3 linked regions of the Homo sapiens genome follow. The protein of the gene in region 2 interacts with the protein of the main gene of each other region in a biochemical or structural test. Each region holds a gene or a part of one and is shown on either strand. Other genes may lie near its edges.

Region 1 (2,699 bases), on a different chromosome or scaffold from region 2:
AGTTCTATATTGCCAAACATCATTCTCTTTTTGCTATATAAATCTTCTATTTCTAATTATTGACCAAATGCTTTACTGAAACTCCGCTTCTGGCCTTTGTTTTGGGATCTGTTACTTTTGTTGCCACCTCCTGATCGCTGTCCTCTCGGGCCTCTACTGCCTTCCCGCTGTCCTCTGAATCTTCTGTTTCCGTCCCGCTGTCCCCTGAAGCCTCGACTGCCTTCCCGCTGTCCCCTGAAGCCTCCATATCCTTCCCGTGGTCCTTCCAGTTCTGGTTGCTCTGTGGCCACAGAGAGCTGCCAGCGTCGTGAATCATGCCATTTCTCCTGTTGAGAGAATGTTTTGTTTTTGTGTGCTTTAATTAGTATTCAATTTTTAAAAAGCATGAGAAAAACAAAATATTTGCCACTTCTTCAAAGAAAAGGTGATAACATAAGTGCTTAACAAGTCACTGGTCAAAAATAACACTGGCCACCCATCATGGTCCAAAAGCCAGTGTCCCTGAAGTGTGGGAAAACACAGTTTCATTATGAGAAATAGCCCTCATCACTACTTCATTTATTAAGTTATTAAACCATTTATTCAACTCAATTGCTACAGGGTATCTACAGCCAAAGGTAATAAAACAAATATATTAAGCACACATTTCTCACAGTATTGAATAAAGATGTAACAATTTTAAATGTCTATGAAAACCTGTAGGCTGGACGTGGTGGCTCATGCCTGTAATTCCAGCACTTTGGGAGGTGGGTGGATCACCCGCGGTCAGGAGTTCGAGACCAGCCTGGCCAACATGGCGAAACCCCCGTCTCTACTAAAAATACAAAAAATTAGCTGGGGGTAGTGATGGGCCTATAATCCCAGCTACTTGGGAAGCTGAGGCAAGAGAATCGCTTGAACCCGGGAGGCGGAGGTAGCAGTGAACCGAGATTGCACCACTGCACTCCAGCCTGGGCGACAGAGCGAGACTCTGTCTGAAAACACACACACACATGCACACACACACACACACACACAAAATCTATATACCATATATAAGTGTTAAAGGGTGGGGAGAGCTGGATATCGTTCACAACTTTGTATAAAGGAAATATAGAAACCAGGTGGGTTCAACTACAAAAATATCAGAATTAAAAAGTTAGGGGGGAATATTCCAAAATTTAATTATCGATTATCTCTTACTAAAGGAACCAGAACTATTGTTTCCCAATCTATTATTCTCTATTTTCATAATTAACATTCTACAATTTAGGTATGTTAACTTTAAAATCTAAGGGAAAAGAATACCTGTATTTCTGTTACTGATGCGGTAGGTACATCAAAGCAAACACCCTAGAAATCAAAGCAAATGGAAGTTAATCCAACCAACGCACATGAAAAATACTCCCTTTAAAAGACCACGTATTCTTTAAAAAAAAGAAAACAAAAAACATAAAGCAAAAAAACCACCAGGTATAATTTTAGATGAACTTTAGACCAAAGCTAATACATTATAGCTGCCAAAAGTACACTGCAGAAAGACAAGGAACATTGAAAAAAAGAACCCCAAATGATTTAGAACTTTCTAACTATAGACAGAGTCTTAGCTATTACACTGTGCTAACCCCCTAGTGGCTATTAGCTACATTTTATTGCTGAGCAAACAGGCTTGGAAAGGTTAGCTGACTTGTCTAAGGCCCCACAGCTATTAAATGGCACAAGTATTTAAAATCTAGTCTGTATGGCTCTAAAACCTATAGTCTAAACTATATACTGCCTTCCATCAGAAAAGCAATGCCAGCTATTCAGAATGACCTAATTAAAAGCAGAAAAACAAGTGATCTTCTATTGTTGATTTTCTGGTTTTTCTTAATTCAGCCTTCTGTAAGAGTATGAAAAAAATAATACAGGACACCATCTTTTTTTTTTCCCTCTTAAGATAGGGTCTTGCTCTACTGCCTAGGCTGGAGTGCAGTGGTGCAATTAACAACTCACTGTAACTTTGAATTCCTACAGGTGCATGCCACTACATCTGGCTTTTTTTTTTTTTTTTTTTTGGTAGAGACAGGGTCTCACTACATTACCCAGGCTGGTCTCAAGAATTATCTTCCCAGCTCAGCCTCCCAAAATACTGAGATTACAGGTGTGAGCCATGGCACCTAGCCAGGACACCATCTTTAATATTAAGTGCCATCCTCTCCAATCAAGGAAATCGTCTAAAAATATAGTCAAACTATGTGTTAACTAATACAGGCACTCCTCTCCCTGCTGTCTTCAACTGCAATATTTTATAAGGAACACCCCTTTCACCCCAAAATTTACCCAATCATAACATAGGTATCATCACCTACTGGTGGATTTTGCCATTCATGGGAATCTTCGCTTACATATTTACGAAGTAGAGTATAATCCCAGGCATTCACTGGGTATAGAGGTAATTAGAAAACAGTTTTTGCCTTTGAGTGTTCTTGAGGCTCTCCATTAGCAAACACAGCAAGGTAAAAGTTTACCTGCATAAACATGTGTCCTAAAGACTCTGAAGTACAGATAAAGACGCCCCTAACATTGCCTGGTAAGATTTAAGGCTAAGCAAAGTCATAAAAGCTACTTTGGAGGAAAAGATTTATATATATATAAAATTTTTTTTTTAAGACGGAGTTTCACTCTTGTTGCCCAAGCTGGAGTGTAATGGCGCGATCTCGGCTCACCGCAACCTCTGC
Region 2 (3,739 bases):
CCCAGCCCCAGTAAAGCTTTTTTCATTCCTCTTGAGGCACTTTTGATTCATGTTCTCCGATAGAGTTTGTGGCGATGGGCTGGTGAATGCACGCTGATGGGAAAAGCCTCCGCCAGGTCTTTAGTAGTAAGTGCCCAGATGAGAAGGCATATGGCTGGTGGGGAGCCTAGTGTTGGGGTATATACCCCCAGTTGGTGAATTCCAGTATGGGTTTGGGGCAGCAAAAAAACTGGAAGATGTCACGGGGAGGGCTGGAGGGTGGGGCGCCACAAAGTTCATCTTCTGTGGGTGGGCGTGATAGGAGCCCATGTACGGGAGGTCTGAGGGGTACTTGTACAGAGATGACTCCGGGGGGTGGGGCTGGAGGGCCTGGGCGATCCCGTGGAAGTCGAACTTGTAGGCGTAGCGCTTCCCATGGACCTTGGTCATGATGTTCTTGTCATAGTAGTAACGGAGGGCGCGGCTGAGCTTATCGTAGTTCATGTTGGGTTTGCTCTTCCGCTCTCCCCAGCGCCGGGCCACCTCGTCGGGATCCGTCATCTTGAACTCCCCGTTGGTGCCTTCCCAGGTGATGCAGCTGGAGTTGGAGCTGTCCGACAGGAGCTCCAGGAGGAACTGCCAAAGCTGGATCTGGCCACTGCCTAATGAGGTCAGGAGAGGAAGGAAAACTCCAGTGAGCACAGGTTCCAGGGGAAAGAGGCTCTCTGTGATGACGGAAGGAGGTGCTATTGGTGTGCCGCCCACATTCCCTTCACCAGGCCTGTCCGTCCATCCCTCAGCTGCAGGGGTGCGGACTGCTCTCGTTCCATGGCCACCCACTTCTCCAGAGAACTGCCCTTGCCTGAACAGAGCCGCCGCCTCGCCCACCCCCAGGTATCCCACAGCTGGGTGGACTGAACGGGGTACCACGGGCCGGCCCCCTTGCCTCAAGGAAAGACCAACTCCATGACGCTATTCAGGCTTCAGGGCTCCCGTGGGATTGGGCTGAAACAGCGTCCAGCTGCAAGGAGGCTTGGAGGAGGCCAGAAACTTCCTTAGCGCTGCCCCTGCAGCACTTCCCATTCTCTCTCTCCTGAGAACATGCCGTTAATCAGTCACCTGCACAAGCAGGCTTACCCCAAGCTCTGCATCAAGGGAACCCGACCTAGGACGATGATCTAACAGATTCAAGACCTAGATGGAATGCAGCGAATTCATATGGGGCAAAGTTCAGGCTGCTTCCATCCATTTCTGACGTCCTTAAAAGAACAGCCAGATCAACCTGGTGTTTAGGGGATGAAAGAGCTATATATTTTTTTTTCCTATTTTGTGAAGCACAAAGTACTGTTATGTGGATGGCAATAATGACTTAATGCCATTTATATTGGCTAGGTCAAGTAAGATAATAAAAGTTAGATTTAGGAAATGAACTTCTAAAAGTTTATGGAAAAAAATCGAGAATGGAAGTAAACACCATTATTTCTAACATAACATTTTGCTGGCGCTCAGAAAGCAATTCTGTGAAAACTTTTCCTAGAACAGAATTAACCCACTCAAAATGAGGAAGTTTAGGAAAAAAAAAAAAAAAGCTGGCTCTTTTTCAAACCAGATCACCCAGTTCCAGTATTTGGGCAAGCGCATCGTAACGGAAACCAGTGCCTTGCCTGTGTGCTGCAACGCCAATTGTGTTAAGCAGCATTTCCAGAAGAAAAACCCCAACAATGAGTGATTGCAAGTCCCCTTGGGAAGCTGAATGAGACTCTTCCTTTGTCAAAGAGATCACATTTAGCTGGGTGGACAAAGTCAGAATTTTCTTGATTTCATTGAAATCATACAGATACAGCTTTGTTTTATGAAATTCAAAGAAAAATCTAGGCACATCATTCTAGCTGCTATGTTACAATACTTGAAGATAGTTTATGGCTCCCTAGAAGACAGCAGCATGTAAATATTGACAGCAGTATCCGTACCAAGAGAAGCTAAGCTGTGCTGAACATATTTCAGAAGCTTAAGAACAGATGGGAGGTGGGTCTTTCCTCCCAAATTCCAGTTACAGCACTGCCTTAGACTTATTACCAAAAGATTACCTTTTATTATAGTGTAAGTAATATCAATCGATGTGATAAAATGATTAAAGTAACTTTAACTGACATCTACTCAGGGAAGTAATATACTGTAAAAATCAATTTTACGTTCATTTTCTTCTAAATCCTCGCTAGCCTCCTGTACATATCACCCAACTTATAAACTCTGCTTTGCATGTTGGCTACATGGACATGGATATTTTTGTGAATTTATCCATACAATAGCACTGTGAGAAAGGTCAGCTTTTTCTGAATCTATGCTGGAAAGTGCTCATTTTCAGTCTAGCAACACATTTGAAATGTATTAACAGCTTGTAGCTCATTGAAGTGGAAGCCTTTGCTTTTTCAGAACCACATATACAAACTGTTCCCAATCAAGTTTTGTTGCCTCCAACATTTTATTAATATGCATTTAGAAAATACAAAGAATGGTATGAGAAAACCATATGGTCTTAGTATATATATTGTAACCAAAAAATTACAACTTGAAAAAATTCCGTATATGACCTGGGAATAGGAAAAGGCATGGATTTTTGATTTAACAGTCTAACAGATGCTTCAATATAAACACATACGGTTGTTTGAAAATAAATATTCAGCGTCAACTTTCTCCCATAGAGAAAGCAACTCCACAGACCTGCCGAAATCACACTTGGAATCTACTCAAACCTTGGCATTGCCTCTTAGCAATTTGTCCCTCACCCATTTCTCTTATAAACGTGTGTAGGACAGAATCAGTGGACAAAAGTGATCTCATGTCTCTCCTATTTCTGAAGAGTTAGAAAGCAGGGGACCTAAATTTGTGGCAGCAAACTCTATGCCCAAAGGATGGATGAGCTAATTTCTCACTTGACTATTTTACCCAGTAGCCATAAAGACATAGGGCTCAGGACTGTGAGAATTTCAAGGGAGGGTCTATAGAAATAAGAGAACTGTAAGCAAAATTCATCAGCTTTCAAACCTTGAAAGAAACCTGGAAATGCAAAATCAATGAATGTTTAAGTAAATGGTAGAAAGAGTAACATCATGTCAAACTCATTAATTGTTAAATTTAATATTTGTAACAAAATTCGCTGCATTTTGCAGTGTGTAGAACAAAATTTCTCACTGCAAGAATTCTCAAAAATGAACAATGGTTGTTAAAAAATTGTCAGTGGTAAAGGAATTATTCTCAGTCATAAAATTTTAAGAGCAATTTTTAAATTCTTATTTTACTTCCAAAACAATAACATTTAATGTGTGACGAGGTGCATTTTAGAATATAGAATAGAGATTTCCAAACAAGAATGCTTAGGGTTTAGGAAAGCCTAAAAGTGGCTTGGGTCACTCATGGGCCAAACCAGGATTTACAAAGAGAAGTTCTTGAAAGACAAGAGCTTTCATTGAGTAGCATCACCACCTCTACCTTAGGACTCACCTTTCTTGGGTAAACCCTTCAGATCTATTTTTTTTTTTTACTCTCTCTTAATAACATCCTTGCGATGTCAGTAAGGAGGAACTAATTTTTTCTTAGGGTAATTACCAAAATAAAACATATTTGGAGGTAAAAAACAGTGGCAAGCAGCATTGTCCACCTACAGAGAACCCTGTGGGTGAAAGGGAGCGGCTGTGGCTTTTAAGAAGACAGAGGCACTCCTTTAATTTTACAGAGGAAAGTAATCTCCTAATATTGTTAA
Region 3 (3,739 bases), on a different chromosome or scaffold from region 2:
TCTTTCTTCCCTTTCACTCCAAAATTACTGACTTTTAACTCAAAAAGCCAGCCAAAAAATGTATTGTTTCCTGATTCTTATGAATAATGTGGGATAACACATTAAAATTTCATGCCATTTCTGAAGGAGTAAATGTAACTCAAAGTAGCTGAGAACTAAACACAAAAAGTATCATCCTCTGTTCCCCACTGAAAAGCACATTTACATGGGTCCCCTCTAAAATATTGTTTCCACTGATGTCATTCTCACTCCAATCCCCTGAGATTCAAGGTCCCTAAAATCATCCAGCAATGGACTGCAGCTACTGAAAGGGGTCATAAAATATCAGTTCTAGTTTAGGATTCACCACTTACCCACCATGAGACCTGAGAAAGTTGAGACCATGAGACCTCAATTCATCTGAGCTTGTTGAGTATTCCTTACTAGAAATATCTGGGCCCAGAGTATCTTGGATTTCTGATTTTTTCAGATTCTGGAACATCTGCATTATACTAACTCTAATCCAAAAAGCTTCAATGAGCATTTCTTTTGAGCTTCATGTCGGCACTCAAAAAGTTTTGAATTTTGGAGCATTTCAGGTGTTGGATTTTTGGATTAGCAATGTTCAACCTGTAATACCGATCCTATTTATATCACTGTGCTGTTACGTGCAAATGAGAAAGTAATTACGTATAAGATATATTAGTACAAAGTGTTACTAATATTATTTTGACACACTCTATCTAAATTTCCAACTCCAGTTTAGATAGAGGTCTTACTATGTTCCCCGGACTGGATTCAAACTCCTGGGCCCAAAGAATCCTCCCACCTCAGCCTCTCGAGCAGCTGAGACTACAGGCTCGTACATCGCACCACCCAGGAACCAAGATGTATTTGTTTTTAAGACTAACCAATAACATCTTTTCTTTGCTAGATTGAAGCAATGTCTAAAAGACTACCTATGTGTATTTTAGAGAAGCATAATGAATTTGACAGAATGTATTTAAATTTCCATATATATATTTTTAAGAATGCTCATCAAAATATTGTGAGTATGTTAATTATGTGAGGATACATTATTAATGACATAAGTTATTTACTTTAGAAGTTTTTTCAATATTAAAAAGGACTAGGTAGAGATCTTGGGACATTTAATGGCTATTCTTCATTCTTCCAGCCTACTGACACATTCAGCCAAACTCACGCTTCTTTCAGTACAGTTACCCACCTGCTTTCGAGCATCCACATCAGCAGCATCTTCAATGTAAGTATCATCTATTTCACGTTCTTCCAGCTCCTTCTCGGCATTTTCTGGTAGAACAATTTCAAAATCATTCTTAGGGGCAGGAAGGCCCAACAACCCTAAACGGAGATGTTCTCGGGATTCTCTTTCCTGTAGAAAAGAAGTGGTCCTTCTCAATTCATGCATATTAAACATTCCACCAGTATTTTATGAGTCTCTTAAAAATTGATAGCACAACAGGGTGACTCTAGTCAAAATAACTGTACATTTTAAAATAACTAAGAATAATTGGATGGTTTCAAACACAAAGGTTAAATGCTTGAGGGGATGAATACCCCATTTTCCACGATATGATTATTACACATGCATGCCTGTATCAAGATATCTCATGTACCCCATAAATATACACACCTACTATGTATCCACAAAAATTAAAAATTACAGAAAGAGAAAAAAAGTCTCAAAAAAAATCAGCCTAATATTAATTCTAGAAAAATAATCCTGACTTCAGAGCTAAGACAAGTCTTATGTTTATTTTCTATCCCCCCTTCTTCCCAACATTAAGACCAACCAAAAACTTTCACTTGTGATCACTGAAGATACTCTGGGATATTCCAACAGGAGGTCTGAGGCCAGGGCAGAAAAAAAGACCACTTTGAGGGAACACATTTCTGACACCGAAAGTTAACAGCAAATGAAAAGAACAGGTTCAAAAGTTAGTTTGTCCTTGGACTAATAAAATCCACTCTAAAAGATACTTGAATTTGTATGTATGTGTTTATTTTTAATGGAAATACTAAATCCCATGCAGAAGAAAGAAAGTAGAGTCCTGGTTCCCAAAAAAGCCTCCTGGTACCCAGAGTTTTCCCATCCATCCTCAGTGCTTACATGTACCAGGTGTGAGGAACAGATGAGTTGCTATATCTAAAACATCCTCCATGCTTACTCATATTGTAGTCTCCATCTGAGACAGCCCCCACCCTCCTTCAGAACATAGCTCCTCTAATAAGGCTTTCCTGTTACCCAACAAATGTGACTATTCCCTTCTTTAACTACCCTAAGCACACTGGTTTTACTCAAAGGGCTTATTCTGTTCTGATATTGCAATTATTTTTGGACTTAGTTTAGTACTGTCAATCTCCCCAGAATATAAATTTCCTTAGGACAAAGGACATCTTTATTCAACTTTAGATCCCCTCAAATGTCCAAATGCATGCTCTGCATGCATGAGGTTCTTAATCTATTTAATTCTTATGTATCCATTCAGAGTTGGCTTTAGTTGATATCAATTTGAACTTTAAAAAACATATATAAATCAACCAAATATATACATGAGGTTAGAATTAATTTTAAACTGAAGACAAGCCAGTATCATTAGAAGTTTTTTTTTTAATTTCACAATGATTTCTGTGGCATTAGATAATAAGGCCCAATAGCAAAGTAATAAACGCAGTAACACGGGCAGAAGCAAAACTTAACTTTTTACAGTTAGCTTTCTACCTCAGCTTGCTAAAGAAAACTTCAGTGAAATCAACAACGAACATCAATATTCACAAACCTAGTAAGCATAAAGAAAGGTGGGTTTTGAGCCCAAAATATTCCCTTTCATCAAGTCTTACAAATAATTCTTTTTCTGGCATCCACAGGTGTATAGATTCTTAAGGTATATGTGATATGCACTAACAGGAGAAATTTTAATTTGGCATCCATGAGATATTAAAAAAAAATTTAAGAGTATTAAAAGGGAATTGACATTTACCATCTGCTTCACGTAAGAGGGATCACTATAGTCTGCCATTCCATCCTCGGGATTAATGTTTAACTTGTCTCGAAGAGGAGTTCTACCCGGAGTAGAGTTAATAACTGGTTTGGGAGTTGTTCCACTCCGGGGAGTCAGCCCTTCAGCTCCATTAGAAGGAGTCCTAGAAAGACAGGAATCCCAATTAACAGAAGTGCCACTTACATTTGGATTGTGCTTTCAAATGTTTTTCACATAAATTATTTCACAGGAAATATAGAAAAAAAAAAGAATAAAGATTTCAAAATTCTGTCCAGCTGGTTTTGTTAGGATCTCTAGGTTAAAATCAATGTTTGGTCTAGCTAGCATGGTATTTTTATTTTACTGACTTACAATAATCACTACATTTGATATTTTCTTGCCTTCCTAAACTACGTCCACTAAACATTATTTCAACCTTTTCTTGGCACATTAGGGCGACTAAGAACATGCAGTGGGCAGGGAGGTGGGCCACCACACTCAATGACCCCAGATGACTCTTTGAGTTTTGTGTATATTTGTCTCCTCCCTCCCTATCAAGCTGTTGGTTCTCACATCACTATCACTGTCATTATTACAAATGTACACACTTTATTAAATAGTTCCTCCTTTTACATTTTGTTTGGAAACCAAACACCACACTTTTGAAATCACATCTAAACATGAGTAAGTTCCTGAGTGAGGCCTAAGAGATTCTCCTAGGAATAAGATCCACAGATTTTGCAGCAACCTATATTTTA

What was found.
Region 1: the proteins of ERG (region 2) and DDX21 form a complex in vitro, tested with the Homo sapiens proteins (one large-scale study listed by BioGRID).
Region 3: the proteins of ERG (region 2) and CDC5L form a complex in vitro, tested with the Homo sapiens proteins (one large-scale study listed by BioGRID).

Annotation. Positions count from the first base shown.
Region 1 is NC_000010.11:68,980,170-68,982,868, reverse strand, and holds part of DDX21 (nucleolar RNA helicase 2), read right to left. Parts: intron 1,333-2,699; coding exon 1,288-1,332; intron 327-1,287; coding exon 57-326; 3' UTR 1-56.
Region 2 is NC_000021.9:38,383,283-38,387,021, forward strand, and holds part of ERG (transcriptional regulator ERG), read right to left. Parts: intron 642-3,739; coding exon 121-641; 3' UTR 1-120. UniProt on the Homo sapiens protein: Transcriptional regulator. May participate in transcriptional regulation through the recruitment of SETDB1 histone methyltransferase and subsequent modification of local chromatin structure.
Region 3 is NC_000006.12:44,422,052-44,425,790, reverse strand, and holds part of CDC5L (cell division cycle 5-like protein), read right to left. Parts: intron 3,145-3,739; coding exon 2,982-3,144; intron 1,373-2,981; coding exon 1,208-1,372; intron 1-1,207.